Linked DNA regions of Homo sapiens. The protein of the gene in region 1 purifies or fractionates together with the protein of each later gene. This does not show direct contact. Each region holds a gene or a part of one and is shown on either strand. Other genes may lie near its edges.

Region 1 (3,500 bases):
GAATATATTTTTACAATTTAAACTAAATTGCACAATTGGTATTTTTAAATTTAATTTCCTTATTATATAATCTTTCAATAATGGCTGACTAGCTTGTTCACAACAAACCTCTCACTGACAATGACTATATTAGTTGGATAAAATATTAATGAAAACCTAATAGTCTCAGAAATTTGGTTAATGAGTATTTCAGCAGCCAATATACTATGCAGGAGAAAAAAATAAAGTGGTGAGCCCAACAGTCAGCAGAACTTTTCTTTTTGAGGCATTTGCCAATTCTGTATGAGCAACTGAGAAGCCAAAACCATCAGATCTTCCAGGAGCCTAGCAAGGCTGGAGTGGAAATAGTTTGAATTCAGGTCTCAGCAAGGAGGAGCAACCCTGGTAAACATTTTAGGTTTTAGTTAGGACCTCTGAATGACTGCAGAATACAAAAAGTAAGGATGAAGAGAAAAAAGTAAAGCCCTTACAAGTAAAGTAGGCTAAACCTCATATCAGGTAAGCACTTGATTAGCTTAATTTAAGTTATCTCTACGCTTATTGTTTGATAACACCAAAGAGAAATCCCACCTGAGAAGGACAGTATTATTCAGAGTCTCAAATTACATCTATAATTATTTTCATACCAGGTGTCTAACATATTATTTAAATTTCGTAGGCATACCAGGAAGGAAAATACATAAAACAGACTAACTGGAGATCTGGATATTGGAGTTGTCAGACATGGGATCTAAAATAATTCTAATAAGTATTCAAGAATTTATAATATGATAGAGAATTGTGGCAGAGAACTGAAGCCTATCTTTTAGAAATCATAGAAACACTTTAACTCAAAATATAATAACTGAAATTAAGAACTCAATAAATTAGATTAACAGCAAATTAAACAAAGCTGAAGAAGAAATTACTGAAATGGAATATAAATGAGAAGAAAATATTCAGATTGAATACGGAGAAGAAAAGAAAGAATGAAAAAAATGAATGTAAGAAACAAATAAGGCACAGAGAAAGTTCTAATATTCTTCAAATTGTAGGCCTAACTGGAGAAGATTTAAAAGGAAACAAGAAACAAACAACATTCGAAGCAAAAATGGTTGAAAAGCTTCCAAAATATGAAACCCAACAAACATCAAGTCATAGATCCAAGAAGTGTTGTACATTATTAGCCAGATGAATGCAAAAGAAAGTATGCCTAGATATGCCATAGTAATACTATTAGAAACCAAATACAAAGATAAAAGAATGAAAGATAAATTATCATCAAAGGACCAAAAATAAGACAAATCGCTGATTTTATTGTAACTGGCTTCCACTGTATCTGTTGAGAAATCTGCATTTTGCACTGCTATCATGGCTGTTAATTTTTTAGATAAAACTTATGTTTATAGTAAACATTCATTTATACTTATAAACATCATATATGTGTGTGTGTATATATATACATTAGTGTATATGTGTGTATGTAATTTCAAACAAAGAAAAACTGAAAAAAATCAATATTAGTACTTTTTTTACTAAAGAAAATATTGAAACAAATACTTCTGGTTGAAGGAAAGTAATCTGAGGAAAAAATGGAGATGAAGAAAGGAATAAAAAGAGAAAATATGTGCACAAGTATAAATGGATATTGACTGTATGCATATGTATTGTAAATACACCATATAGATAATAAGTATATAGAAACAAAAACGTAAAAGGCAGAGGACAGAAAATGAAGTTAAAGAGTCATATTTGCATTTTTAATAAGTTGTAATAGTACTAATATATTATTTTAATAAGCCACGGTTGTATGTTGACATCTTATAGACAGCAATTAAGGGTATAGTAAAAAAAAGTATATCACTAACATGTCAATTCAGGGGGAAAATGAGAAATTAAAATGCTACATGATTTCAAAAGAAGCTGGAAAAGAATAAAAAATGGTAAGGAGACAAATAAAGAATACATGAGACAAATAGAAAACAGTATGATGGCAGTTTGGTCCCTGTCTGAAAATTCCTCCTCAATCATCCTAAAATATTTAGTAAATGTACTAACAACTACACAGTTGCAGGCCAAAAGTATAAAGATACATTATCATCTTATTACATTTAAGCAGAAATATAATACATTTAAATTCCAGAGACCCTTTAGCACCAAATAACTTTACGCTGAATCATAATTTTTGCTGACAGCAAATGTAACACAAAGGATCAGAATCGAATGTAAAATAACTATAAATTTAATCTCACATAATCTACTACTTTATTTTAGAAATATAATAGGTTTGAAACATTATTTATATTAGAATTTAGGTCTTTGGAAATTTTATTTTTGCAAAAGGGCATTAATATGTGAAGAGATTTAGTTATTGCTTAAGGAACACTTGAAAATCAAAGGGGGATCGCTTCACTAGGAAACTTAAATTTAATCAAAACTTTAAAACATGCCAATTAAGCCAGCTTCATTATACTCTTTTTAACAGAGACAACTACAGAAAATAAAACAGGTCCTAAGAGATAGCTTGAATTACAGAATGAGCAATTTCAACCTCTTGGTCTATTAAGGGAATTTTCTGCAAAACCATTGTCATTAGCAAAAACAGAGACCCACATAATTTAATTAGTGGACCTGTGATAGAATAAGCCTTTCATTCATATTTATTCTTTTTATATTTGATAGTACATTGTTAAACTTCTAATATGTATATGTGTATATATTCATACACACAATATTTAATTTAAGTCTAATAATTCATCAGGGATATATTATCTCTAATATGTAAGCTGAAAAATTAAGGTGTGGCCATGCTCTTGCACACACAAAACCATGGAATAAGTTGGTAACAGAAAAATATCGAGGTTTTCAATATTCTATTGCACACACATAATTATTTCAAAATACAGAATTTTCTATCTGTTCTAACTACAATCAAATTATTTCATATTACAGGAGTCAGGTTTATTCATGATTCTCTCTGCCAGATTCAACAATAGAGAATTAGTTAAGCTCTCTGCTGTGTTGACAGCCTCCAGAAACCATTTTTACCTCATCTCTCCATTAAACTACTATGAGGTCCTATGAGACAAAAAGGTGAGAGAAAAACAGTAATAATATTCATCGATTGGTGCTAAGATCAAACTCTATACCATGTCCCCATTCTCACTGATTTTGTATTCACTTAGCAAATATTTATCATGATGCTACAGTGTGCCAATCATTTTGTTGGACCTTGAACAAATGCTAAGAAGAAGTCCATGGTCTTCATGGGCATGTGATGCTTATGGCCTATAAGGGAAAACATTAATTCATTTGTTCATTCAAAAAGTATTATTGGCCATAAAAAATTAACCAGACATTCTGATAAGTGTTGAGAATCCCGTGGTGAATTGCTTCCTTAGTTTTACTATGCTTAATATCTGCAAAGCAATTAAATATCAAGTAATCATGAAAATAAATATATAATGCATATTATCTACAATAGGTTACTATGCAATAGAAGTCTAACAAAAGCTGCTGGC
Region 2 (3,500 bases), on another chromosome or scaffold:
CCTTTTGGGTATGAGTACGGGAGAGGGGAGAAGATGGCAGGCTTTGCAGCTTAACTTACTTTGGTGGTAGGGCTCAGGGGAGGCGAGCTCTGTTCGATGGTCCCCTCCAAGACCAAGGGGCTGGGTGTCCTGGGCTGCTGACATTTCTGGTGCTAGAAAAAAAAAAACAGACATCCCAAGTGACCCCCTGCTTGTGCCCCTCCTGCCCTGCCCAGCACCTGTGGGAACAAATGCTGTTCCTTCCTGAGCCCCAGGTTCTCTGTGGCCCTGACGTGCTCCAGTTCTGGAGCTGGTGGGGAGGGACTGAGGAGTCTGGAGAGATGTCTCCGGATCTTGCAAGAGGATCACTGAGCCTTGCCCTCTCTGAGAATGTGGGCCCAGAAGGGGCTGCAAGGTCTAGGGGTGTGGGGTGCTGACCCACTCTGGGCTAGACCCACAGGGCCCACAGAGTGGTGCAGACAGCCAAGGCAGACTCATCCCTGGGGTGGGGGTACACCCAGACCCTCTGAGGTGGAGCCATCACCTCCTCCTGTTCCTCCTCAGCCCCTGCGGCCCCCAGGTTGTCCTGGACAGTGTCCTCTGGGCCTGGCCCCTCCTTGCTCAGACTCAACTCCTCCAGGTGGACTTCATCACTGTCCTCCTTTTCGTAGGCATGCAGGCCGGGCCTGTGGGTGGAAAGGGAGGCAAAGCCGTTCTAGGGCCATTGGATTGCTTGGTTGACCCCTTCCTTTTTCCAAGCCTCAGTTTCCCCATCTGTAAAATGAAGGTAGTCAGGCTACTTGAGTGCCAAGGGATCTGAGACCCAAGCCCATTGGGAAAGAAGGTCCAGTGGCCTCAGAGCCAGCGCAGTCTGCTTGGGCCCCTGTGTCAGGGCCTGAGGCCCCTGGGGAACTGCCCAGTCCCTGCCAGACAGGGCTCTACAGACTGAGGGTCCCCCAGGCACTGAGGCTGGGTTCAATCCCCAGCTTTGTGGCTGGGCCTCAGCTTGGCAGCTGCTTGCACACCCGGTTGGTCTGACGGGGTCCCCGCGAGGCCGGGCTGCTGGGGCCACCACTCCTGCTCTGCTCCCTGTGGGGGCCCTTGGGTGTTTGGGGGACTGGAGGCTGGGTCATTTGGAGGGCTAGGCAGGGGTAGGGGCCAGGTCACTGAGGAGCAGGGCCAAGGGGCTGCCGGCTGCGGGGGAGGGGAGGCCAGCCAGCTGGCAGCTTTGAGCGGCTCTGCATTTGAGCAGGACTGAACCTGGAGGAGAAGATGGGAAATTCTCGAATTTTCCATGATTTCAGGCCCCTGGGTGTGCGTGCCAGCCAAGACCCAGACCCACCCGCCCAAGGTGGGCAGGGGTCTGAGCCAGCAGCAGCCACACAGAGGGGCCATTCAGGAGCAGGTCTGTGCAGCCAGGCAGGTGCAGGGGGTGGGGTGGCGGCCGCAGAGCTGGGCTCCACGGAAGAGTCAAAGCGCCCCCTGCTGGTGGGAGCAGCCTCGCCCGCCTAGGCCTGAGGCCAAGGGAGAAGGGAGCTGCCCCATCTCAGAAAAGCAGAGCCGCTGACTCCCAAGCACGTAGGGGGGAGACTGAGGCCCAGGGAGGGGGGCGGTGGGCACTGCGCCAGGCCAGGACCAGTGGTTCTTGGGGAGTGGGAGCCTGGTTGTAGGAGGACAAGGGAGCGTCGCTCAGCAACACTGGTCCCTAGAGCTCCAGGCTGGTTTAGGGCCTCAGAGGGGCCAGGAAGGACCCTGACCAGGGAGAACTGTCAGCCCAGCCATGGGCTCTGGTCCCACTCAAGGCAAGGGGGTCCTGAGCAGGGCTGGGGTCCCAGATGGCCCAGGCCCTGCAGGGCGGGTGGGGTCAGCCCCATCATGGCCACAGATGACTGAGAGCGGCAAGGACCCCGAGCAGGGGTAGTGAAGTGGGGCTCGGGAGCAGCCCCTGTTGGGCCTGTTGGGGTTGAGACAGGCACACACATCCCCACATCTGGAAAGTGCGTCCTCCCGGCCGACTCTCCGGCATGCACATCTGGAAATACCTGCTCCCCTCCGTGGGAATGGAGATCAGCCAGCCCCGAGGGAGGAAGGGGCGGCGGCGGGCTCTCAGCCTCCATTACGGAAGCGGCCGCAGCTGTGTGCTGATGTGGCAGCACCCGGCCTGGCCTCGCAGCTGCCTGGATGGGGCCCAGGGGCCCTGGGGAGCCCCAGAATGAGGTTTCCTCGCGGCCCCTCGCCGGCCACCATGCTGTCTCGCCCTCTTCCTCCCTCCCCTCCTGTCTCCCCCTTTCCTGGCCATGGGGGCATTTCAGGCTCTGCTTGGAAAGGGGAGGATGGGGTGGCTGCTCAGGCGCAGGTTGAGGGCCTGAAGGGAGCTCCGCGGTGCCCTGCTCTGCCCAGCGCCCGCCCTCGAGGTCCAGAGGGAGCCCTGCTCTGCCCAGCGCCCGCCCTCGAGGTCCAGAGGGAGCCCTGCTCTGCCCAGCGCCCGCCCTCGAGGCCCTCACTCACCTGTCCTCTTGCTCCCCCTCAGGACTCCTGCACTGGGGGGGCTCTCCGCTGTCCAAGGCGCCCTGCGCCCCCTCGTGCTGCTGCCGCTGCTCTGGCCTCTGGGACCAGTCGCCAAAGCCCTCGTCCTCATCCAGTTCAGGGGCCTCCGAGGGCTTCAGGCTGAGGCTGAGGGTAGCAGGGGGGAGCTTAGGCCTGGGCGGCTGCTGCCTCCTCTGCCCAGGGCCCACACTCACCTCACGGCGCCCGCTCAGGCCCTGGACTCCAAGTGTGGGAGACCCTGTCTGCCACAGAGCTGGCTCTGGGCTGTGTCTCCTGTGGTCAGAATACCTGAGGGCAGGGCTATGCCTCCCCCGTCAGTTCTGGGGCAGCCTGAGAACTGTGCTTCCTCCATCAGTCCAGGACTCCTTGAGGCTCAGCAGGGCTATGCCTCCTCCATCAGCCTGGGGCTACCTGAGGGCAGGGCTATGCCTCCCTCATCAGTTTGGGGCTCCCTGAGGGTAAGGCTGTGCCTCTTCGATCAGTGTAGGGCTCCCTGAGGACAGGGCTGTGCCTCCCCTGTCAGCCTGTGGCTCCCTAAGAGCAGGGCTGTGCCTCCCCCATCACTCTGGGACTCGCTAGGGCAGGGCTGGGCCTCCCCCGTCAGCCTGTGGCTCCCTAACAGCAGGGCTGTGCTTCCCCCATCAGTCTGGGGCTCCCTAGGGCAGGGCTGTGCCTCCCCCATCATCCTGGGGCTCCCCAAGGGCTGCCCTGGTCCCCACATGAGGACCCTACATGAGGTCCTCCTAAGCCCCGACTTCTCAGGCCTCCCATGTGGCAGGGGGAGCCCCTGGATAGCTGGGGCCCTTGGTGGGGGTGGCCAAGGGCCTGACTATGGTGACCGCTGAACCCCACTCTGCCCAAGGCTGCTGACTTGGAGAAAATGGAACAAAAGAGGCCAGAAGGAAGGGAAGCATTATTGGAAAAACAGCCCAGCCCAGCCGCGGAGGCCTCCTGGGCCCAAGGAGGAAGCAAGC

The links.
Region 2: the proteins of HMGCLL1 (region 1) and LSP1 purify together in Homo sapiens (affinity purification with mass spectrometry; one large-scale study listed by BioGRID and IntAct). This does not show direct contact.

What each region holds. Positions count from the first base shown.
Region 1 is NC_000006.12:55,572,693-55,576,192, forward strand, and holds part of HMGCLL1 (3-hydroxymethyl-3-methylglutaryl-CoA lyase, cytoplasmic), read right to left. Parts: intron 1-3,500. UniProt on the Homo sapiens protein: Non-mitochondrial 3-hydroxy-3-methylglutaryl-CoA lyase that catalyzes a cation-dependent cleavage of (S)-3-hydroxy-3-methylglutaryl-CoA into acetyl-CoA and acetoacetate, a key step in ketogenesis, the products of which support energy production in nonhepatic animal tissues.
Region 2 is NC_000011.10:1,880,584-1,884,083, reverse strand, and holds part of LSP1 (lymphocyte-specific protein 1), read right to left. Parts: intron 2,653-3,500; coding exon 2,488-2,652; intron 666-2,487; coding exon 524-665; intron 153-523; coding exon 60-152; intron 1-59. UniProt on the Homo sapiens protein: May play a role in mediating neutrophil activation and chemotaxis.